Regions from separate parts of the Homo sapiens genome. Here region 1 is linked to region 2. Evidence: fine-mapped expression QTL. Tissue or cell type: visceral fat. Region 2 holds a variant in brackets; the other region holds the start of a gene. All regions are shown on one strand. Distances are from middle to middle.

Region 1 (12,411 bases), 120 kb before region 2:
ACCTTAAACAGGGAAAACCTGATAAGAATTTATGAATTTAGGTCTCTTTAGGAATAGTGGAACATATATGAAAAGCTAAGCCATTGTACTTCCCAGTGGCAATCACTTTATATATGTATACACACACACACAAACACACACATATATATATGGTTTTTTTCACACTACCTATTACTAGATCCTTGTTTGTAAAAAAAAAAAAAAAAAAAAAAAGAAAGAAAGAAAGAAAAAAACTTGTGCCAGGCTGTAGTATTTTATGACCTACATTATTACCCTCTGGGTAGTGAAATGATGGTGCCAAACTAATTATTGCTTTGTCTAATTTTAAATCCAGGTCTACGGAGATTAACAGCTTGCACATTAATTCAAAGCACCAACAGCCCACCTAACCTAATGCTGTTTTAAATGAATTAAAAGCCCTGTTTAGGAAACTTTAATACTTTAATATACTTTAAATGAAGGAAATGTGCATCTATATTTTTATTCAGTTTATAAAAACCAAATTCACTTTGCTTATTTTGCTTGTTCAAACATACTCCAGGGAGGAACTTTCTTTATCTTCAGGCATTACTTCTCTTGAAAATGAAATATCTTCTAAGCTTGAAAGCACGGTCTGAGTGGAACTAATTGTAAAGTGGGGGTGGTAGTGGGGAGAGAGAGGCAGCGTGAGTAGAAAGACCATGTTCAGGTAGAGGGAAAAAATTCAATTTCAACGTATTGTCCCTTTTTATATCTTTGACATTAAATGAATGCCTTTAAACACACTGACATTTTGTAATATTACAAAATGAACGTGCAGAATTGAGCAATCAATACAAACAGATCATCTATAAAAAAGGCAAGGAAGCATATCACCAAACCTACAAGAAGGACTCACAGTTTGGGGGACTAGAAAATGCTAGACCATTGCAATAACTTCCCTCCTGGTCTCCCCATTTTCAGGTCTTTTAGCTCTATCTTCTTAAAGCAGGGTTCAGCCCACATAAATCGCTTTCTTACAAACCTTCCAGCACTTTCTGTTAACTGCCTACTGAAATGAAAACCTCTCAGGCTGGGACTCAGTGAAGTTCCTCTGCAATACATCCCCAATTCTCATTTCCATCCTTATTTCCCATTCTGTGCCTGTGGAAAGCAAAGGGTCAACCAAACTAGATTATATGCTATTTTGGGCAAATACTTCTACAGTTTCCTTTCAATTTGTCTTTGCTCATATCTATTTCCTCTACTTGTCAATTCATTAATTTCCCCAGTAAGCATGTATGTTGAATTATCCCAATTAATTTAGGCATGGAGGAAAAACAAAGATGGAAGATAATTGCCTGCCCTCAAGAAGCTCAAAATCTAATGCAGGAGTGAAAGACATGAACACCCTTAAAATGATGTGAGGGTACAAAGAGAGAAAGAGAAATAGAGTCCAAACAGGGGAAAGATACTTAAGTGCCTCTAGGAAGGTTGGGGTGTGGGTTGGAGGAGCTAAGTGCTGAGTGTCTTAAGGGAGTTCGCCCACAGAAGCGGAGAGGAAAAGTCAATTCAGGCAGGGGGCACACTGTCAAGCAAGGCATAGAGAGGAAAAACAGCACAGTTTATGCAAACTATAAGTGGTCTGTTTTATTGGTGCATAACAATTGCTATGAGAAGGCCAAGTGTGGGGGCTCACTTCTGCAATCCCAGCACTTTGGGAGGCCAAATCAGGAGGATCACTGCGGTCTAGAAGTTTGAAACCACCTTGGGCAACAGAGTGATATCTGTTCTCTGCAACAAATAAAAATTAAAAAAAAAAAAAAGAATAGATTGCTGTGACAAAGTCTAGAAAAACTGTCCTGTCCTTCACAAAAGAACTCACAATTTCCTCTAGACAGAACTCCTTTATAACTGCACTTTCTATCATTCACTTTGGGCTATATTTATCTGGCTTCATCCATAAAATGTTAAGGTCACTTTTCTTCAAATCCTCTGCAATTTGTAGTGTAGTACTTTTAATTATATTAAGCATTGAATACTTTCTAAATGAAATTGAGAACCATGCAAAATCAGGCAAAAGTTCCAGCAAATATACACACACTATAAATATATGTGAATTTAAAAATGTAATACTCAGGTTAATAGAAGAAAGCAAAACATCTTAAGTGAACCCATCACAGGATTTTCCAGTTTGTCTCTACTGTAGAGCTAGATCACTGAGGAGATGTATGAACCACACTAATATCCTTTGACAGTACCTGCATTTGAGTGTCATTCTGAGCAAATTGAGTAATTTTACTCAATGAGGTCATGATCTTCACTAGCTTTTGTGGTTTTTTTTCTTTCTTTTTTTCTTTTTTTTTTTTTAGGGGAAAGGGTGGTACATAAGGACTTCTTAGTAACTTTATTGAAGTGAAAATCATGACCCTTATACTGCAATTTTATGGAAGCATTAAAAAATTATCTTGTCACTAATTTGCATTATTGTAAGAACTACCTCAGATTTTTGTGAGTAATATGAAAGAAAAAGTCTAGTTTCATAAACAGCTACTAAGTTCTAGAATGTGTTTTGAAACCCAGGAGTTTGGAAGAATATATTATTAGTTTAATGTTTTATTAAAATATTTAACATTTAAGTTCAAAACTAAAAAACAATATTTGAAAAATTAAATTGAATTGCGTTTAGCATTTTATGAAAAACTATACATGATAGCCCTCCAAACTTCTTTCCTTAAAGCATCTTGTGACCTACATCTCCCTCATCTTTTCTACCCGCTGTCTACCTTCTGCCTCCACTGATTTTTTTTCCTTTCCTTTCCTCTCCCATCACTTAGGTAAAGCACATCTCTGTGTCCAGCCTAGCTCATATTTTCCTTAGTCCAGTGCAGACAAGTCTATGGTCATTTGCAAAATCACATTCAGTATCACTTTGCTTATTCCCTTAACCTTCACTTTTGTTGTTGTTGCTTACATTATTTTGAGAAGAAAAAGCAGAAAAAAGTAGAATTCCCCTCTGAATTATCTTGAAAGGAAGGCATACACACACACACTCCTGAAGAAGAGTTATGTTGATTTTTCTTCTGATTTTCTTAAAAAGCACAAGTTTGAGTATACTGTGTATTAGAATTTCACATATTAGTCAAAATGTTATGCATTATAATGTCTGTGCATTTAAAAAGTAAAATAGAAAGAGAAATGATATTGCTAATAGAGTGGGAAAAATTAGTCAAATTTATTATTTTCTGAAATAACTGTTTCCCTGACTAGCCAATCAACTTCCTTTAAACACTCAATATTTAATTCTCATGTTATATCAAGAAGTTTCAAAAGATATTATAGAGATGGATGTCAGCTACAGCCAGAAACATTTCTTTTGATTAAAAGTTTTGAAGATAAATGCATACAGAATATGATGACTGTTAAAGTGCTTTTTAATCATACCACATAATTAAAGATAGTTTTATTAAAACAACAAAAACTGAACATCGCAAACAATGCCATGAATCTCTGTGGAAAAGAAAGTCAAGTTTTATTTTCCTTTGCTTAAAATAATTGGAGAAAAGCAACTTTTACCTATACTTAAAAAAAAAGGGAGAAATAGTGCAATGACGAACTCTCCTGTGTATCTTATTATTATGGAAGTCCCATAATGTATATTCTATTATGTAAGTGTCTTTTATTCCCAGAGTATATGTAATTTTGAACAATTTAGAAACTCTGTACCTCTATCCAGTGCTCTTTTGAACAGTTTTCCAATTATTTGATTCCAAAGTTAATTATATTTATTTGCATGTTGAATGATTTTTTTATAATGTGTATTTCAAATGAATCTATAAGGGAATTGGAAAGGTACAGTTATTATCTATTAATAAACTCTTGCTGACCACACTTTTTCCTCCTCTTTTTAAAGAGCAGGGGTTGTTTTATTTTAGATATTACAGATGAATGGCTTTAAGTCTGTCATCAAAATACATTGTTTTTATATTCAGTGGGCACTGTATTATATATTTTATTCACTATTTGAATTTACACAAGGAACTGTAAATTCAACGCTAGGATTTAATGTTAAAGGTTGATGAGCTCTGAACTTTTTTAACAAACAAGAACAGAGCAGTTTTGCCCGAATTGCACAGAGCATCTGCTGTGTGTCCAGAGGACTTTTGGTCGTCATTCCCCAAATGGGCAATAACTGCGATTATGAGCGCTTCACAGTTTTTTTTTTTTTTTTTAATTCATCTGTACTCAATCCAACAGTGACCCACAGATATTTCCCTACACTTATTTCTTTGTGGTAAAATCCAATGAACAACTTTTCGTAATATCATTTTCAAAGCCATCTTGTAAAATATAACTAAAGAGGTTTCAGTGTTCTCTGTTACATCAGAATAAAGTTCTTCTGTTTTATTTCGAAGACTCCTTTTTTAAAAAATTCACAGAAAGGTCAAATCCATTCCAAATAGAAATCTCATTGCTTAGAAATATTTCTTAGGATCTCGAATCACTCTTTTTTTGTCTTTTAAATTCTGTCATCTGCCTAGATTTAACTGAAATAATTTTTATTTCTCAGTGTGTTAGCTAAAGGCATCCATTCAAAGGTAAGAACATCATAAAAGGTGAATGGAATTAATTTCAAAGTATATATTTGGCATTTTTAAAGAGCTGCATTTCAGCATCTGGAGAGCTGCAATTTAGGCTATCAAATCTACAACAGAGAAGCTGGGGGAAATGTGAACACCCTTATGAGGAGGGTCAGTCCTCAGCAAGTGCATTTTCGGTTCCAACCTTCAAAGGTAACATTTTCAGCTTGATGGGCTCCTGGTGGAATATATAATTTGCCTCTTTCATTCTTAGCTTCGTTGAAATATAGAAGACTGGATGTCTACCAGGCCAAAGTATAAACTCACCATTTATCTATTAAAGTCATATTTAATGAAAACGAAGAGAAATTATGACCCAATTCACTCTCTTTCTCATTACAATTCCTAAAGAACTTTGCCGGGCACATTATCTCGTAGACATCATGATCAAATGTTATTGTTTGCTTTATTATCTCAGTTGGATGGTTGGCTAGTCTAGAATGAAATAGGTTGAAGGCAATACTCTCAGCCTAGAAGTCTGAATGAGGTTCCCATTCAAATGATCCTGATTGTTTGCGGGTGGGGCGGGGTGATTAGTAAACCAACTGAGCTTACACTGCATAGTAAGCGTCTGGATGCCGCACATTTACATCTAACAAGAGACCCCAGAAAACGTGTGTGTGTTTCTTAAACCTTATGTTCCGAACAAAAGGCTATCTCAGCAACAGACAATCAGCACTGCATTGCTCCCTGGGATGCGAGCAACACACTCAACTGCACATTTCATTCTTCCTCGGCTCCCAGCACCACAAAGCCCCTACTCTCTTCCCACTCCTGGGTCCCCAGATTACTCCATAGAGGGGGGTTGGGAAGGCAGAAGCCTAACGTCTATGCCTGCGCACCAGCCGCCGACACCAGGGCCCCCCGGGCGCTGCTTTCTCCAGCCCGAGCCGCCTGGGGGAGGTAGGGAGGGGAGCCAGGGAGCGCGAGAGGGGACCGCACACCTAGACACTTAGGATTTTATTTATTCACAGGGAGGCGGGGGAGGGGAACTGGGCGAACGCGAATTTTCTCCCCGAAGTTGCCTCTTCTAAGCAGATCAAGTCGTTTTCTGGCTGGTGCTGGGGGCCCCGGGGAGGGTGCCGGTGAGGTCCAGGCTCTCGAGACCAGATCCCGTCCCGTGCGCAGAGGGGGTGGGGAAGGGCGGACGGGCCGCAGCTGTCGAGAGGGCCGGGAACCGGCAGGGAAGAGCCCGCGGGCCGGGGAGCAGCGCGGCTCTGTCCCGGGCCCTCCAACGCAGGCCGGGGAGCGCAGGGGCCGGCTGGTCACGCGTGGGAAAGAAAGCCCCCTTCCCCCTACGGCGCTGCTCCCCTTTCCCCAGGCTGGGCCGCCAGAGAGTGCGTGCAGGGAGAGCTGCGAGTCCCCGCGCGCGTAATCATGACCTCGGGGCCCCCTCCGGGCCGCGTGAGCGCATCGGCGAGGCTGGGCGGCCGCCGCGGCCCCGGCCGTGTAACATGACCCGAGCGGCCGGCCGGCCGGCGCGGCGCGGCCATTGAGCCCTCCCTGCCCATGAATCTCTGGCGCGTCTCTAGCTCGCTCGCCGGCTCGCCTCCCGCCTCCCTTTCTCCCCCTCCAGCTCCGCGGGCTCCGTGCGCCTCTCCCTCTCCCTCCTGGTCCTCCCGCTGCCCGTCTCTCTCCACTGCCCGCCTCTCGCCACTGCCTCCCGTCTTCTCTCCCTCACGGCAGCCTCCGTCTCTTTCTCCCTCTCTCCTTTGAAAACTGATCTTTGGCTCTTAGTGTGAAAGTGATTTGAATTTGGCTCTGCGGCGCTCTGCGCCTGCGCCCAGCCTCTGGCATGCTGGCTCCTTCCAAGCAGCTGTTTTGGGTTTGAAATTCCAACATGGCAGAGGCTGCAGTCCGTCTTCCCTTCAAAAACTTGGAATGATTTCAAATCATAGGCACCTTCACTTAACCCTAGCTTCCATTCATCAGCAAACACATCGGATCGATGCTACGCTAACCTATCGGGTTCTCTCTCCGCGCGTTCAGGTAAGAGGAGCTTCGTAGTTTTCTACCATCTGTTTAAATTTGTTTTTGTTTTATTTTTAAAGAATATAAATACATCCAAGACCTGTAATTAAAAGAGATCTTCAGTTGTGCCGTAAACATTAAATTCAATTTCCACTCGTTTCTATTCTGTACGCCAACCTGCTGTCTAATTTCTCTGTTCAAAGTAGCCCTGAAACATTATAATGCATATTTTTGCTGCTTAATCATTGTAACAATAGTATGGGATTAAGAGTTCGCGATTGCAAGAATCTCGCTTTTCGCTATATTGGGCTTACTTATTACTATCTTTTTACTTCAAAAATAAAAAAATAAGAAAGCGGAGCCATAGGGTGGGGCTAGACTTTCTTCGGGAACTAACTTCTAAGTAAATAAGAAGTGTAAATAAGAATCTTGCACACACACAAAAAGTTGAGGTTAAATTACAATCTCGTGGCTGGGGGAACGAGAAAATGTCAGAAGATCGGTTGCAGAAAAATGTAAGCACATCATCTAGGAGGGGGTACAGCGTGGTGGGCGTATTGTTGGCAAGGAACGGGAGAGAAAGATGTATAATTTAATGGTATATACAATCCACTGATCCTATTACCGTCCTCCCCGGAGCTCTTGTTAGTTTCAATGGGAGTGAGTGAAATTGACATGGACTTGCATTCCTGGTCATGTGCTTTTTTTCCTTTCTTTCTTCTCCTGTGATCTGAGATCCCCTTTTTGTTGATGTTGCTTTCCCCCTTAATTATATGCATGTAGGTTAAATGAATACCTGACGAAAGGGCCCACGTTTCAAGGCAGTGACATTTGATAGCTGAGAGGAAAAGTGGCTTTAATGAAAAGCAACCTTTGGAATTCCTGCTTGTGAGAAATCCAATTCAGCTTTTTGTGCTGCCAGCAAGAAATGATCAGTAGCACCAGTGTTTATGGTATGTCAGTTTTGGAATTTACTTCCTTTGCATCTAAATAGGAAAGACAAATGAAATAGCATGATAAAACCATTGAAGACTGCCTGGCAAGCAGTTGCTCATGATATAGAATTCCTTTTTTTAAAAAATATATGTTTAATGTCACCATGCTTTTTTTTCTTTTGCTATCACTTGTTTGTATATTGCAGTTTTGATTAATATATTACTTGAATCCACTTTTATCGGTTTTAGCTGTCATCCAGAAGTTGCACGTTACTAGTAATGCACTATATATATATAACTGCTGAAGTCAAATAGTATGTAAATTAGTTAAACTCAGTGTGGGTTTTTTTTTTTTTTTTTTTTGAAGGAGGGAGGCTGGGCAAAGGGGAGAGGGCAGGAGTGTTGGGAAAGATTACTAACTAATGAAAGTGTATCTATATATATGTACACACACAGGAACAGGACTGGATGAAAATTTTATTTTTCTCAATCTATTAATGCAGTTTGACTATCTGCTCTTGATGTTTGCACTTTGTGGAGTAATCAGTTCTTCTGAGTGTGGTTTTTTTTTGGGGGGGGCGGGTAAGTGAAGAGGTGTCTTTTACATGAAAATAAAAATTATATTTTGATTGTCCAAAGTCCTTGATGTCTTTTAAAGAGTAGGGATAGGTTTTTCTTCCCCCTTTCCATTCACTCGTCTGCCTGTCAGCGCTTTTTACTTTTAACTTGTGACAGAATTAAATAATCAGGCACTGAAATTGACTTCGTTTGAAATCGCTCTTTCCTTTCTTTACAAAAAAAAAAAGTCAGTTAAATGGAGTGAGAGGGGATTTTCAATAGCTCTTGTGGCAGTGCCCTGTGTACACTTTGTAATATTCAATTAAGACAGAGGGAACAACAACAACAAAAAGATGTTAAAGTATTTTGCATAACCAAAGGATATGTCCACTTTAGACTGTTTTTTTTTTTTTTTTTTTTGGTTGTTGCTATGTTTACCCCATGACCGTTAATTCCTCCTGAAAAGAGAGAAAGAAGGAAAGAGAGAATATGAAAAAAGAAATAACAGTGGGGCAAAGCTGCCAGGGGTCTGTAGTGTGGCCGTGGTCACTGCTCTCTCCTAACACAAATGTGAATACGAAGAGAGGAACTACAAGACCCGTTGCGCGACATACACGTCTGGTTGGACTCTGGTGACTATTGAGCTAAATACACACCACACTTACACGATAGGAAAGATTTGATTGAATTTTGCATTTGGAACTTGTTGACTTTGAAGCGATCAATAAGAAGACTGTTTATTTTAGATGCACATAATTTGCCCTGAGAAATGTTTTAAGGAGGAGAGAGCACAGCTTTTTTTCCCCCGGAGCTGTTGGAGCGAATGGGATTGCCAGATGGGCGATTTCCCTCTGTGATGTTAAAGCTGTAATATATATTCAGAGCAGATTGGGCTGCTGCCTGTGATGAGGAGGATATTACATTTATAAATTTTAAATCGGAGCTCGGACAATGTGCTGAGAGCAGAAATTGGATGGTTTGACTGTTCACCGTATTGATACTTAAATGTGATTTCTAGGTAGTACTAATAATAATCATTGCAATAATTCATGAAAAACATACTGGCATAGGCAATTATATAATTCATGACATTTAACAGCAGATTTGAGTGTGTAAATTGCCCCCCTCTTAAGTCTCTGCTTACTATTAAATAATAGTCACATAATTCATTTCCCTATGTTTAAATGTCCGATGTGCAAATGATGTTAACTTAGGAGCCTTGTTATCATATATTAGAATTCTAGGGGTGAAAGTTTACATACATATATATAAAGTAGACACTTGTGTATATGTATAAAGTGGCGTTACTGGCTCTTGTTTTCTAATTCTTTACTCTGATTATTTTTAGATTTTGTTTGTCTCAAATGTGCGGCCTAAAGGAACCAGAGCTACAAACCTAAAAGACTAGAAAGTGGGCAAGTGCTCACACTCTGGCAGCTCTGCTGTTGCAAATTAAAAGTGTGTTGTGGTCAGGAAATGAAAGCTACAATGTCTCTTTTGAACAAGTCGTTTATCAAGAGAAACATCTATCAGGGACTGCCTTGTCACATTGATCCTCTAAAAGTTAGGTCCGAGGTGGAAGCTGCTTTGATGTTTTTGATCCTAAATTTAATACAACAGAAAAAAAGCAAGGATATTTTGACCAGTATAGATTTTTAAAAATGTTTCCTGGAACCAACAAGATCTATTTATTAGGATTTCACTATGTGTGAAGTTTTCTGGACGTAACAGTTGAAAGGTTGAAGGGGAAATCCCAGACTTTATAAATTGATGATTGTTAGAATATACATTTATAATATATTTAGTGATGGCTGGCTTCTTGGTGCACATGGAATGGACGTTTTGAACACAGATTGTTCAAAAGGAAAATTATTTTGAAAGATTATTTTGGAAGAATATGTAGAGAGTCAAGAGTTTTTCATTCAAATTTTAGTTATCCTCTTCTGTTCTTCCTCTCTTTTACTCCTTCATGCTTGTTTCTTATCTTCATTATATTTGTGACAAATTAGCTTTTATTTGGAAAAGAAACATTATTTCTACAAAAACCATGTCCCAAAACATGCTTGTACACATCGTCTCTATTGTTTATTAATTGTGCATGTTTATGGTTATCAATATAAACTGCATGGACACATAAGTCCTTTGGAATTTCAGCTTAAAAATAGAGGTATCAGATTAAACATGCTATGTGTTCTTGAATAATGAATATGTTGTATGCATTATTTAAAATTGAAAAGGTATTGTTAGGAAAATGACCAAGTTGAAACAAAATTGTGAAAGCAGTTAGAAGCAGCCTGCTTCATTTTGGGAGGCAAAGATAGGAAAGAAGTGTTTCTTCTTTAAAATAGAGTTTTTGGATACTTGTCTTACACTGCTGGAGGCAACTTGTTATTTCATGTGGGTCTATCATCAAATAAGCAGGGAAGAGTAGGGTGGGAGTTTTGAGAAGTGTAATACTTGCTAATTAATCATGTCTGAAATGAAAGAATCATAGCAGGGTAATAAAGTCTCATTGTTGTTTTCCTGGAAGAGGGTAAGACTTCTGTTTGGAAGCTGTATGTGTGAGTTGATTTGCTTTTCTCTTCTCCTAAAAACACAGTTTATAGGGTCTCTTTGGAATTATTTCAAGAAACATCTTTTTTTTTTTTCTGAAAATAGAGTATTTTTCTTTCTCCTGGCTGTATTTCATCAGTAAGATTCTTAAAACAGTATCTGATATCTTCTGAGTGAAAATAGGGGGTTTTATTCTTTAGTTATATTTAAGACTCCTGTAGCTGAGTTTCCAGGGCTGATATTTTTTTCCTTCCCATAAATAGAAAATATTTTTTGTTTTTGTTTTTATTCATGTTAGGCAGGAACTTTGAAAACCTTTTTGTAGGTAGTTACTTCTGATAGATATACAAGAGTGCAGAAATTTCATTAATTACTTTTAGATGATAATATAAGAGTGTAACCAGAGAGAAGAAAATAGGTAGTATTTCCAAGAATCTATAGAGACCATCTGTATTATTACTTTGCATTTCTAAGATAGTTTAAGATATAAACCACCTGAAAAGATAAATGGGTAATTTCATTATAGGTTAATTATTTTTTCCTGAGCTTCTGGTTGTCACCTTTTAGAATTTAGTATCTTACTCAGGACATTCATAGGGACAGATCCACAAAGTTTGAGAGTCTGCACTGTTTTTCAGAATGTTCATGTCAAGGTGAAGACAGCCATGCTAATACTTCCCTGTTTTTGTCTGTGTGAGTGTTTGGATGCCTTGAATGATTGCCTAATTAAGTAATCACTTTTAGTGGCCCAAAATCAACAGAATTACTAGATGTATTTGAAACAATTGCAGGCTTTTAAGGTTTGAACTTTCTAGTTCTTAGAACCTTGGTTTAATAGAAATAGAAAGGTGCTATTTTACCTTTGATCAATATATTCTTGAGTGCAGATTTCACATACTACTCTTTATAAAGTACTGTGTTCATTGTTGAAGAGCAAATAAATTTAATTACCAGGAATTTAAATTGATTTATAAATTTTTGATTGGAAGAAACTATTCTGCAGATGTTTGTGTGAAATATTGACATATGCTACTGATCGATAGAACTTGATTAATCAGCATATCTGCTGTTTTTCTTGAGTCATTGATAAACTAGAATAAACAAATGGTTCAGAAAAAGCTATAAATTTTAACTCTCAATAAAAAATAAATGTATGTGTCTTTCTTTTGAGATATACAAGAGCTAGTGTTTTATTGAAATCAACTGAACTTAGAAATTATTTGGGGGTACCACTTAGAAGCTTACAAGTCCCAAAATTCTGCCTTTCAATTCACACACACACACACACACACACACACACACACAAACACGGAGCAAGAGAGAGAGATTGTACCTATATTATTGTTTATTGAAAATGAAAGAATTTTTTTGACACACTGCAAATAAATGGCCAGTTTAGCAAGTGCTTTCCATGGTTGGATTTTGTCATTTTCTTCTTTTTTTCCTAAACTTGAATTTTTAGCATTAACTTTTTCATTTAACTTCTGGCAGAAATTTTAAGCATAGCTGCTTTGGTATGATTGCTGATTACTAATCTTTTTGATATTTTTGATGTTATCATTTAAATGGCAATTTTCTTTCAGAAATGTTTATTTTAAAAAGTAAAATAGCAGGAATAAGGAGTATGAAAGAATATACTCAAAATAAATGGTACATTGAAGTTCGAAGCAAATCAAAAGCAAGGGGTATGCTAAGTTTCCTTAGGGCAGCACCACAGGTGCCTGCTCAGAAGCGCTGCCTCAATACAGCACATCCGTAAGTACCTGTTGACAACAGTAGTCTTAGCTAAGATACTG
Region 2 (11,654 bases):
ATTTCACCAGGTCTATTTCACTAGAAGGGGGCAGGGTGGGGAAAATGAAGAGGTGAGGAAACTACTGCTGTTGCTAAGAGCTTCTCACTTTTAATCCTAGGCTGTGCTGGTTGTATTCTAAATCAGTTTATCTTCTTACAACGTCTTATTTGGAAAAAAACAACACGTAACCTACCAAAACTCATTTCATATGTAGCTTTTTCCACTACTTTCATATCAAAGTTATTTTCTTCAGGCTGGACTAAATTATACACAGGTCCCAGGAGTGAAGGACACTGAATTAATGCACTATGTCACCCAGCCCTGACTATAGAATTTTTTTTCGAAGTCCAAGACACTATTTTGCTATTGCATTAAAAATTAATGCACGAATTGCCAAAAAGAGAAAAATGCATAAATAACCCAAACAAATTTTGTCTGGGCTTTGCATACTTTAGAGTCACCTAAAGCAAAGTTTTTAAGGAGAATGGTTGAACAGTTTTACCCTCAACATGTGAATAACATTCTTACTCTTTTGTCTAATTATATGAGACAGTGCTCAATCTTACATAAGCAGACTTATATATCTATTTTGTCTTATGTAAACTGTCTTTTTAGAGTATGGTTCCAGAGGAACACAGAGAAGTAGATGAATGCAAATTTCATTTTAAGCAAGGTTGTGGGGTTTGGAAGATTTCTTAATTTGTTTATTGACCGTTTTCAGCTTGGTGTGTTGGGCAAAACATGAATAGAGTTCAGTTTAAATATAACTAAATTGGGCTTTGCATTTAGATAGTTGAAATGGAACACACACACACACACACACACACACACAAATATTTACACAGAGTTATATGTGCACCTAGTGGTTAGTATACCATTTTAGGATTATGATTGATGAAATATACTAGCCATGTCATAATTCAAGGTTGGTATCATGCCAGATGTTTCTTAAATAAAAATGCAAATATATTTTGTACGGCAAAACAGTATTTTGAGAATCAACTGGAATAACCTCAGACTTTTAGGATGATGATAATTATTATCTCTGCAAAATATTTTAAAAAATAAAGATTCAAAACACTCAGAAAATGCAAAATACTTTTGGCATTTAGTACTCTGTTTATGGATCAATCATACAGGCTGGATGCTATGAATATAGCATGGGGCTCTCAGGTTGTGTTAACCCCATTTATCCCTGCATGCTACAGCTCACCTGTTATTTACACACATAAGAGGGTTGATACTGCAGAACAAGGGTAGTGCTCTGTTGTGACACAGAACATACATATTCATTAGCCACTGCAGTCCCTATGGACATACGTGGTATGTCCTGATGATCTGGGGGGAAGGGTAGATGGCCTTAATGGATTGAAAAATGTATACGGAAAAAGGAAAGAGAGGGCATAAGAAATGAAAGGCTGCAAAGTAACAACTTTAAAGGTTAACTACAAAGTGCTATTTAAACTGATTATAAATTGTCTAAAATTCACAGAGGTAGCATAAACAAAATAACAGTTTTTAAATATGGGAAAATCAGCCCTTTTACCTCAGACTCTTTCCCTTACAATAGTTAATGACACCTGACACTTAGGAAGATTCAGAGTGTGAATTATTTGTATATTTTAAATTGCATGTACACGCATCCTCATGTATCCTTCTGAATAACTTACCATAGAATATACACAGTTTTGTACACTTTTTTTTACTTGGTTTTAGATTATTATTCAAAAATTTTACACAGAAACATTTACAAAACCTACCCCCTACCCCCACACAGAAATCATAGATCTAAGTTATAATTTTAAACTATGTGGATTTGTGTGTGAGCATGATAATATGTTCACTTGTATACTTTAAGTATAGGAAATTTTAAGGGAAAAATTACTTGTTTGAATTATGATCATGATTTCCTGGGTTGCTTTAAATGATATGGTTTCTGTCCTGATCATATAGTGAATCTAGGCTCAGTGGTCTAAAAATGATATTTCTTTCATCACTGTAATTTGCTTTGCATAATGCTTATGCATTCATTCTCATAAATGCAAGCCATTTTATTGCATATTAAAAATAATGACCAATCAGACCCATGCATATCAAGTTTTATCCACCACATGAAATTTTGGCAAAAATAGTCACCGTTACACTTGGTCATATTTGTTGGGTGAATATTTTCTTGCTATGGATACAATTTAATGCATTGTAGAGAACCCAATTCAGATCATAAGCTACCTACAAGTTTAGTTTAAACACAGAGTATATATTAATACCATCCTAGTCCAAGTCATGGTGCCTGTAACATTAAATACAGGCTTTTATGAAGCCCAAAATAAAGACATTTAGACAACAAGATCTGTTGCTTACCTGCGTACCATCTACCCAACAACTTTCTGTAGGAAATAAGAAGCATAACTTTGGAGTAGCTTAAATAACCTTATAAAAGTTGTACTAATGCTCGTGTATTCAACTAATAGGAGATGCTTCACTCACTGTTAAATTAAGCTTTGGTTTGTGGTATCAAACATACAGCACATTAGGAATGGTGAAAATGGATAGGAAAATAGCAAAAAATAATATCTGACAAATTAGAGCAAAAGGGGGAACACTGAAACAGCATCTGAGACCAGTTTTTTAAGATACCATTCATTATTCATCATTCCACACTGTTGTACTAATGACACTGTATCAATAAGAAAGTTATCAATTATTTCCCACGTGTTGTGTTGTAAGAGGGTAGGGAGGTTCTCTTATCATAAAAAAAAGTATTTGGAAAATGTTTTTAACTTTTAGAGCTGAATACTTTCTAGATTTCAAGAAAAGGTATGTAAGTTAAGAAACTGGAGTTGAAGCTCTAAAGTGGAGTCCTAAATTTAAATGCCTGTGTGACCTGGTAGATACCATGAAAATACCTGACATTGTCAGGGGGTAGGAGCACCATGACAAAGTGGAAAGGGTAGGATATGCCCCAAGGAGGGAGCTGGTCCCCAGAATCGGACAGCTGTTGCCAGGCACGAATGAAGTGTTGTAAGATCTTGTCTGAAAAATGGGAAATATGGAAATACAGATTTTTTTTTTTGAGACGGATCTTTTAAAACATAAAGTCGAGTGATTTTTAAAGCCCTGTGCTGGCCAAACCAAACACAGTTGCAGGGTATATGTTACCCTCAGGCTGTCAGATTGCAATTTCTCTGTAAGAGGGTGAGGTATCTGAACTATATTTACTAAGACCCATTTAGCCAGAAATGCCTTCATAATTGTTTAAAAAAAAAAAAGCATTGTTTTATGCAAATACAATGGAATGGGTTGAGAAGGCTGCTGCAAAATGTATTGTAATTTGGAGTCTTGAGGTGTGAAAATATGATTTAAAGAGAAAAAAGTATTTGACAGTATTGTTATATAATTAGAATATCTTATTTTGAAACTGCAGGTTTTAAAATGAGTTTTAACTAGTCTTCAACCTCTAAGTACTTTATTTCTTAGTTTTAATCTCTAAAATGTTGAGTCACAGGAAACATCAAAAATAAATAAAATACTTTGAAAACATTTGAAAATGTTGACACCTTTTTGATTAAAGAGATTATGCTCTTTGTTTTGCTCAGAATGAGAGAATTTCTGTATCTTTCTTGGAACCAACAGTCCCACTGGAAAATTTCATTTACAGTTGCTGTCCTGAGGTTGAAGGAAAACTGACTTATAAATTCTGGGAGTGATTTTACTTTTTTTCTGTCTAGCCAGTGTTGTTTTGTTTTGTCTTTAATGCACCCCTGGCCTTTTCAAAATAAAAGAATACTAAGAAATGTTTGTGTAGCAGTTCACAGTTGGGAAATAGTTTCACAAAATATTATTCAGGTAATCTTAATAGCAATACAGTAAGGTGAAATAATACCATTATTGTCCACATATCACAGCTGAGTGAGTATGATGTGCTTAAGCAACTTAACCAAGATTAGAATAAATAAGTGATGATGTAAGCAATGCTGCCAGTGGTCTTATTCTACAGGCTGGAATTTTCACCGTGAAACAAAATTCTTGAACCTTCTTTATGTTCCTTCAGTCCCTTTCTATCCCAACAATCTATCAATGGCTCCAAATAAAATACTATATTATGCAAAATAGTATCCAATCCTATAAGACATCATTATAAGTGAAACATCAATCGAAAAGTGAGGATGTCTGGAATGGTTAGGTCATTTTAAAGTTCTGTTAATCTCTAAAATCAAAGAGTCTAATTTTGGAGAATTTAGACTGTGAAATTGTGAAAAAGAGAGTTGAAAAGGTTTCATCACCTTATAGAAAATGGATCCTCCTTTTTAGCATTGAACCACAATGCTTTGTACATAGTTCATCTTTTATTGACTAAATTTAAAATTTGACAGCCCCTCTGTTACATTCAGCTTATAAAATCTTCTAATTTTGGTCCTCTAAAGATGGAACAAAATTAGGTAAAAATGATACGTAATTTCAGTGCTTCTTCCTCACTTTTTTCCCTTTCTGTTACTTGTAGATTTTATGCCATATTTTAAAGCCAAGAATGATCGGGGAATGGGCTGAAGAAATTTCCAGATCAAATGAGTTAGTACTAGTAATACTAGATAATGCTGTGTTGGCCTCTTGGCTTATGAGGATGAGTAGACAAGGCTGCATTAGTCTCCTCAAACATTTCATTTGGTCATCACTCCCATTGAAGAATGATAATAAGTAGATATTGCACAGGGCCAGTTTGCAGTGCCAGGAGGTGTACAATCCTTCTTTCAGAAGGTTCTTCACTGCATAGACCTGTATTTTTAGCCAATGAATTTTCTACTTTCTACTGGAAATTTTGAATGCTCTGTATGTTAGTTCTGCCATTTCCAACCCAAGAGATGATAAATCTGTTGCATCAGAAAGAAGAGGCTGTAAAGTATTATAATTACTTTACAGTATTTACCCCAGTAGTGATTGTTTTTCAGAGAAACCCTTGCTAATATTATATTAATTTTTTTAATGTTAAAAAATAATGAAAGGTTCAGAGGTGCAATAGCTCAAAGAAATGTAATAGGTGTAGTAATGTTGTCATGCAGGCCTGTGTGAGTGCTATGCATCTGTTTTAGAGCAGGCAAACCTGCCATGCCTGCAGGTGTTTGCCTCAGGTCCCTGCCCTTAGGAAGTCTGAGAAAACCTACAAATGAAGGCAGAGCCCCTAGCAGCCAAAATTACCCTATGGGAACATTGTAAAAGGGAGTAACTATTTTAGACCTGATGAACTGTTGAATAGTACACGTATATAAGGAGTGGGTTGGGTAGTGAGTGCCTCACATTGATATTTCTATGAATATATGCTAAAAACAGATTCTAGAAGACCTAACCTTTTATTTCCAATTTTCCTCTCATTTTGAAAGTTGCTTTTATACCCTTCATTTTTCTATATTACTGTTTAAAATTTTATAGCTGTGGCAGAACTTCAGAGGATGCTATAGTTGTTTTGTTTCGAAACTAGTTAAAGAGCAAAATGGAAAAAGTAAAGCAACAAGGCAGTAACTGGTTAGTAATTAAACCTAAGTTATCAAATGGTCAGTAATGGTAAGAATGGCAAATGTTATCCGTACTATCCAGTTATATAGGAAATATGGATTTGTTCATTTATATATACATGGAGTCATCCCATAACAATAAAATAAGAACAATGCTCAGATGTTTTACTCTAGTACCTGTCATTCCTATGTAACACTTAAATTATCTTAAAAGCAATTTTCTATTAGATTGTGTATTTTCAAAAAACACGTTGCATGATGAAATTTGCCAGCTGTATTAAGATTTTTCTGATCCTTTCAAAAGTAAAAATTGATGTTTTGCAACAATTCTTCAATTATCTTTAAAAACTATTTTTCTTACTTTCCACTGTTTTCTGAATTTTTACTGTACCTATTTAAACTATTTCCAAACAACAGTAGGAGTTATTGTTCTAAAGTCATGCTTCTAATAATGTTAAAATAGTATTGTTTCTGAGATCCATCTCCATGTTCTGAAGAGAAACCATATAAAAGCTGTTTTTAAAACTCAACCCATTATTTGAGTGCCAAGTTAAGTGACACAGGTGTATTGCTTCTGACTCACACATAATTGCAATACAGTCAAACAAAGCAGGATGTTTTTGTTGTTCAGAAAACATTTGGCTCTGTGGTTTTGTTCCATTTCATATCAGAAATAGCACCACCAATAAACACAATAACAATAACAACAAAAAAATAAATTTGGTTACCAATTTCCAGTTAGTGTTAAAATTCAAGGAACCAACCAAAAGGCTCTGTACTTCGAAGGCCAAGACAATCTCCTGAACACTGATTTCCTCAGCTCCTGCTAATATCAAGAATTAGTTTGTGGTTAGATTAGCTTATGCTTTTAAATAACATTAATGATTTTAAAGCACTGGATAAATTCTCGTTTCAGGGGATATGAACAAGTCCATTGCCTTGTATTTAAACAAAATACAATTTTGCCTTTTGCAGCTCTGCAAAGGTTATTGTTATTTACTATGCATCAATAAATAATCTTTCAATTATCTTGTAAGCACATCCAAAAATAGCATGACAATCAAAAGGCAATGGTGTATCCAGTAATTGTTCCAAATAGATAATTTTGATAAATATGATCTTTGCTTAATTTCAGGTAAAAAAGAAATCTTACGAAATTTAGTTTTGCTAGACTTAAACCATGCAAAAATACCCTATGAAATGGACACTCTATTTAAACTGTATACTACTGTCTTTTACAGTGATTATAACTTATTAAAATCATTTTTTCATCTCTTGTATGAATAATATATTTACAAGAAAACATTACTTAAGCTAATACAGGTGGGGGGTTCCCACCTCCTGTGTTTTTTTAAAAAAATAAGCAGTTTCATTTGAGTTAAAAAGTATATTTCTTTATAATATTTGTTATGTATGTTTATTAACTTATGCTAACAATGGCTTAGCTCAGCAAACTGAAAGGAAGCCGTCCTTTAACTTATGTGTGCGTA[C/T]GTATGTGTGTGTGTTGTGCTAAATTCCATTGCCTGTACTTCTAAATTATTTGTTGAGCCCTTTAAGACTTTTTTTTTCACGTTTTTCTGTATCAAACTAATCACATTTATACTCACAGCATATGTGTGTTCTTATTTTCTCTACTCTGTATTTTGATAATATTTTAAAGAAAAGAACCATAATAGAAATTCCCTAGAAATAATTTACAGGACTAATGAATTTGTAGGTCTCTTAGACAGTTCTACATTACAGTCACATTAATATTCTCTCCTTTTTATAAGGCTTGAAGTAAATCCCACGACACTAGAAGCATTTAGATACTGATTACTTGCGATTGGTTCCTGGTGATTTGCTCTTAATAATTTCCAGTTGAATTTAATGAAAGTATGATTCCTGAAATGCTGCTTCATTAAAATTGCAGCTTTTCCCCTTTAAGTGTGGTTTCGGTCATTTCACCCATTTTGCGGTGTGTTTTCCTCCCCCTTAAAAAGTAATGATTGAGAAAGCAGAAATAATTAAGAATACCACTTTAGTTCTCCCTGGAACTCATCCTCAGAGTTTCTCTGAGTGAAATGATGCAAGCTGCATTTCATCAGGATTTTATAATACTATTTTCCCATTCAATGAGATTATTTAATAATATATAAAGTTTTAAAACATAAATATGAATTTTGGGGGTAGTTGAGGGAAATTGAAGAAAGAATCTGTTGCATGTACAAGAGAACTGAGGTCTTTAGAATTTTTACTAATATGTATATACATATATTTAGGTTGATTAAGTTACACTGTGCAGCATTCAGACTTAATTTAACTGAGTTGTGATTTGCAAATGAATATCTACATGGATCCTTTTTAAAAATCAAAATGCAAATGAGTACAATTGCAGTAAAATATATTTGCAAATGAATCCTGTTGCTTTATTCATTTATTGTGTAATTACTGCAATCCTTCCCACCTTGTTTTCAGTATTTCTTAATCATTAAGTCGGAAGCATGACAGCAGTGCCAGCCCTGGCATGATTCTCTTTGACTAAAACCTTGTAAATTAACACAATTAGCACAGCATCATCCTGCTAATTAACTTCCAGTGTCTGGTGCAGTGGTTTTGCAAACAAGGAAGAGGGAGTCAGAAGGGAATCAACATGCCATTCTGTTACCAAACTGTGTGTTATGTTCAGTTTATCGCAGTAAGTCAGAGCCGGCCATGTCAGAAGCCAGAGTCAGGCAATGAAGAGCCACAGAGCTTGGAGGAAGAGCACAGAAGGGGGTAGAAACTGACAAAATAGACTGTAGTAATTCAGAAGGGGGTTGATGCCACAGATGCTTCATGTAGACCAGGCCTCCTCCTTATCAAGGCATCTCTGCCAGAGGGCACAAGACAGTTTGCAAAATTCACTTTGGGTAATACAAAAAAGATGAAGGAGAGATGCTTAATATAGCTGTACCAGAATAGGAAGTGTTAAACCAAGCAGAGATTAGACTGAGATGAGCCAGCAATGGGAAAAAGGAGAACAGGGTACCAGTCCTCTTCTGTAACTAACTGTATGTGAGACCTCGAGGGTACATTATAAATCGCTTTGGGCCCTGGTTTCCTAATCTGTGAAATAAAGTAATTTCTAAAGTCTCTTTACAATTTAAAATTCAAATTATTCTGACTGCTTAGTATTTTTTTCTTAAATGAGAAAATGCTCATTTTGTAGTTTGCTACATAGTCAACTTTGCTTCACTTAGTAACCCAGCAGATGATAGAATTACCCAGACCATCTCATTATCTACTTGTACTCCTCTAGCGTATGCCCTACGTGGTTTCCTATAGAAATTGAAAGAGTTAGAATCCAGAATCTCTCTCCATTCTTATCTTCCCTTTCCCCTCAGTTTCCTTTCTCTCTCTCTCTCTCTCTTTCTCTCTCATATATAATATATATATATATATATATGAAGATGTATAAGACAGGATGTGTATAAATACACACACACACACACACACACACACATTCTCCCCTCTTAGTACCTTGCAGGCTGTAAGGGGAGGAGGGATTATAAGAGAAGGAGGGAGAACGCTAGAAGACCGACAGACAAGTGATGCTTGTTTTTTTTTTCAGAGACTCAACAACAGAACTGAGAGGCAGAAAGGAGCCAGTTGTAATTCATACCGAGTTGTAGGCTTTGTGCGATGAAAGCGATGGAGCGCTGCCTGGGAGATTGCTTTGCTGCACTCCACGAAGCAGATTTGAAACTGTCGTGGACCACTTTAGATGAGAGTTGGATTATGGAATGACCTGCTATGTCTGTGTCATATTGTTCTGCGCAGGGAGCATTATACTGTGCTAACTAGGTGTTCAGTACCAAATAAGAGAGGTATCCTAGATGTGATCTGTCAGCTGTGTCTCATTTTTATATTGCTTAAAATGTAAAACAAACTGTGATGTGAACAGACAGAATAGCTAGATATTGTACATGTTAATACTGCCATGTGCAAGATATTTAAAATGTCTGCTTATTTTAAGAACCTATGATTGAATTCTAATTTGACAGGAATGTGTGTGTACATATATATGTGATTGTGTATGTGCGTATAGTAGGTAAGCTGATGGGCTTGACAGAAATAGATTTACTTATTCCTTACAAATGCAAAAAATATAGGTAACTACAGAGTTATATTTTAAACTCAGTGTGCTTTTTAAACAGGGCTGAAGTTTAGTCCATTTTAAAGAGTACTTATTATAGGGATCATAATAGGTATTATAAACAGTGTAGATCTTTTAAAGTATGCATATCATTAATGGAAAATAATAGGTAACAAAAGAAATTGGGGGAAAAGCTTTAAGAGTTCTGATGCCTATTTAAGTAAATTAACTCTTTTCCCCCCAAAATTCTTAGGCTTGAAGATGCAGTGGACGCCAGAGCATGCCCAGTGGCCAGAACAGCACTTTGACATCACCTCAACCACTCGGTCTCCTGCCCACAAAGTTGAAGCCTACAGAGGTCATCTGCAGCGCACCTATCAGTACGCCTGGGCGAATGATGACATATCTGCTCTGACTGCATCCAACCTACTAAAAAAATATGCAGAGAAGTATTCCGGCATTTTGGAAGGTCCTGTGGACCGACCCGTACTCAGCAACTATTCGGACACACCATCAGGACTAGTGAACGGTCGGAAAAATGAAAGTGAACCCTGGCAGCCTTCCTTGAATTCAGAAGCTGTTTATCCCATGAACTGTGTTCCGGATGTTATCACTGCCAGCAAAGCTGGAGTCAGTTCAGCCCTCCCTCCAGCAGATGTCTCTGCGAGTATAGGAAGCTCTCCTGGGGTAGCCAGCAACCTGACAGAACCTAGTTATTCAAGTAGTACCTGTGGAAGCCACACTGTACCCAGTCTTCATGCAGGGCTCCCATCTCAGGAATATGCCCCAGGATACAACGGATCATATTTGCATTCTACTTATAGTAGCCAGCCAGCACCTGCACTTCCTTCACCTCATCCGTCTCCTTTGCATAGCTCTGGGCTACTACAGCCCCCACCACCACCTCCTCCGCCACCAGCCTTGGTCCCAGGCTACAATGGGACTTCTAACCTCTCCAGTTACAGCTATCCGTCTGCTAGCTATCCTCCTCAGACTGCTGTGGGGTCTGGGTACAGCCCTGGGGGGGCACCGCCTCCGCCTTCAGCGTACCTGCCTTCAGGAATTCCTGCTCCCACCCCCCTACCCCCCACCACTGTTCCTGGCTACACCTACCAGGGCCATGGTTTGACACCTATTGCACCGTCGGCTCTGACAAACAGTTCAGCAAGTTCTCTCAAAAGGAAAGCTTTCTACATGGCAGGGCAAGGAGATATGGACTCCAGTTATGGAAATTACAGCTATGGCCAACAGAGATCTACACAGAGTCCTATGTACAGAATGCCCGACAACAGCATTTCAAACACAAATCGGGGGAATGGCTTTGACAGAAGTGCTGAAACATCATCCTTAGCATTTAAGCCAACGAAGCAGCTAATGTCCTCTGAACAGCAAAGGAAATTCAGCAGCCAGTCCAGTAGGGCTCTGACCCCTCCTTCCTACAGTACTGCTAAAAATTCATTGGGATCAAGATCCAGTGAATCCTTTGGGAAGTACACATCGCCAGTAATGAGTGAGCATGGGGACGAGCACAGGCAGCTCCTCTCTCACCCAATGCAAGGCCCTGGACTCCGTGCAGCTACCTCATCCAACCACTCTGTGGACGAGCAACTGAAGAATACTGACACGCACCTCATCGACCTGGTAACCAATGAGATTATCACCCAAGGACCTCCAGTGGACTGGAATGACATTGCTGGTCTCGACCTGGTGAAGGCTGTCATTAAAGAGGAGGTTTTATGGCCAGTGTTGAGGTCAGACGCGTTCAGTGGACTGACGGCCTTACCTCGGAGCATCCTTTTATTTGGACCTCGGGGGACAGGCAAAACATTATTGGGCAGATGCATCGCTAGTCAGCTGGGGGCCACATTTTTCAAAATTGCCGGTTCTGGACTAGTCGCCAAGTGGTTAGGAGAAGCAGAGAAAATTATCCATGCCTCTTTTCTTGTGGCCAGGTGTCGCCAGCCCTCGGTGATTTTTGTTAGTGACATTGACATGCTTCTCTCCTCTCAAGTGAATGAGGAACATAGTCCAGTCAGTCGGATGAGAAC

Alleles and levels. Positions count from the first base shown, and alleles are read on the strand shown. Sizes are in standard deviations (SD) of each study's normalised expression.
For the expression in visceral fat of the gene that starts at base 6,417 in region 1, allele T in region 2 goes with a higher level than allele C (moderate effect, 0.43 SD a copy in GTEx).

Evidence for each region.
Region 1: FIGN starts here. The variant in region 2 is fine-mapped to the expression of FIGN in visceral fat (GTEx, PIP above 0.99). The same link has a PIP of 0.9 or more in nucleus accumbens, ovary, sun-exposed skin, thyroid, tibial nerve and unexposed skin.

The regions. Positions count from the first base shown.
Region 1 is chr2:163,730,014-163,742,424 of GRCh38, reverse strand. FIGN (fidgetin, microtubule severing factor) reads left to right here and starts at 6,417. Exons shown (of 3, transcript NM_018086.4): 1 at 6,417-6,587; 2 at 7,353-7,522. The coding sequence starts at 7,498. It overlaps LOC107985957 (a long non-coding RNA gene), which reads left to right and starts at 8,484. Exons shown (of 2, transcript XR_001739759.2): 1 at 8,484-12,411. RefSeq lists enhancers at 4,778-5,293, 5,294-5,810.
Region 2 is chr2:163,610,012-163,621,665 of GRCh38, reverse strand. FIGN (fidgetin, microtubule severing factor) reads left to right here. Exons shown (of 3, transcript NM_018086.4): 3 at 9,860-11,654. Among named protein-coding and RNA genes, the nearest start is that of FIGN, 120 kb to the left of the region's middle. RefSeq lists an enhancer at 1-142. The variant C/T (reference allele first, on the strand shown) is at 6,980.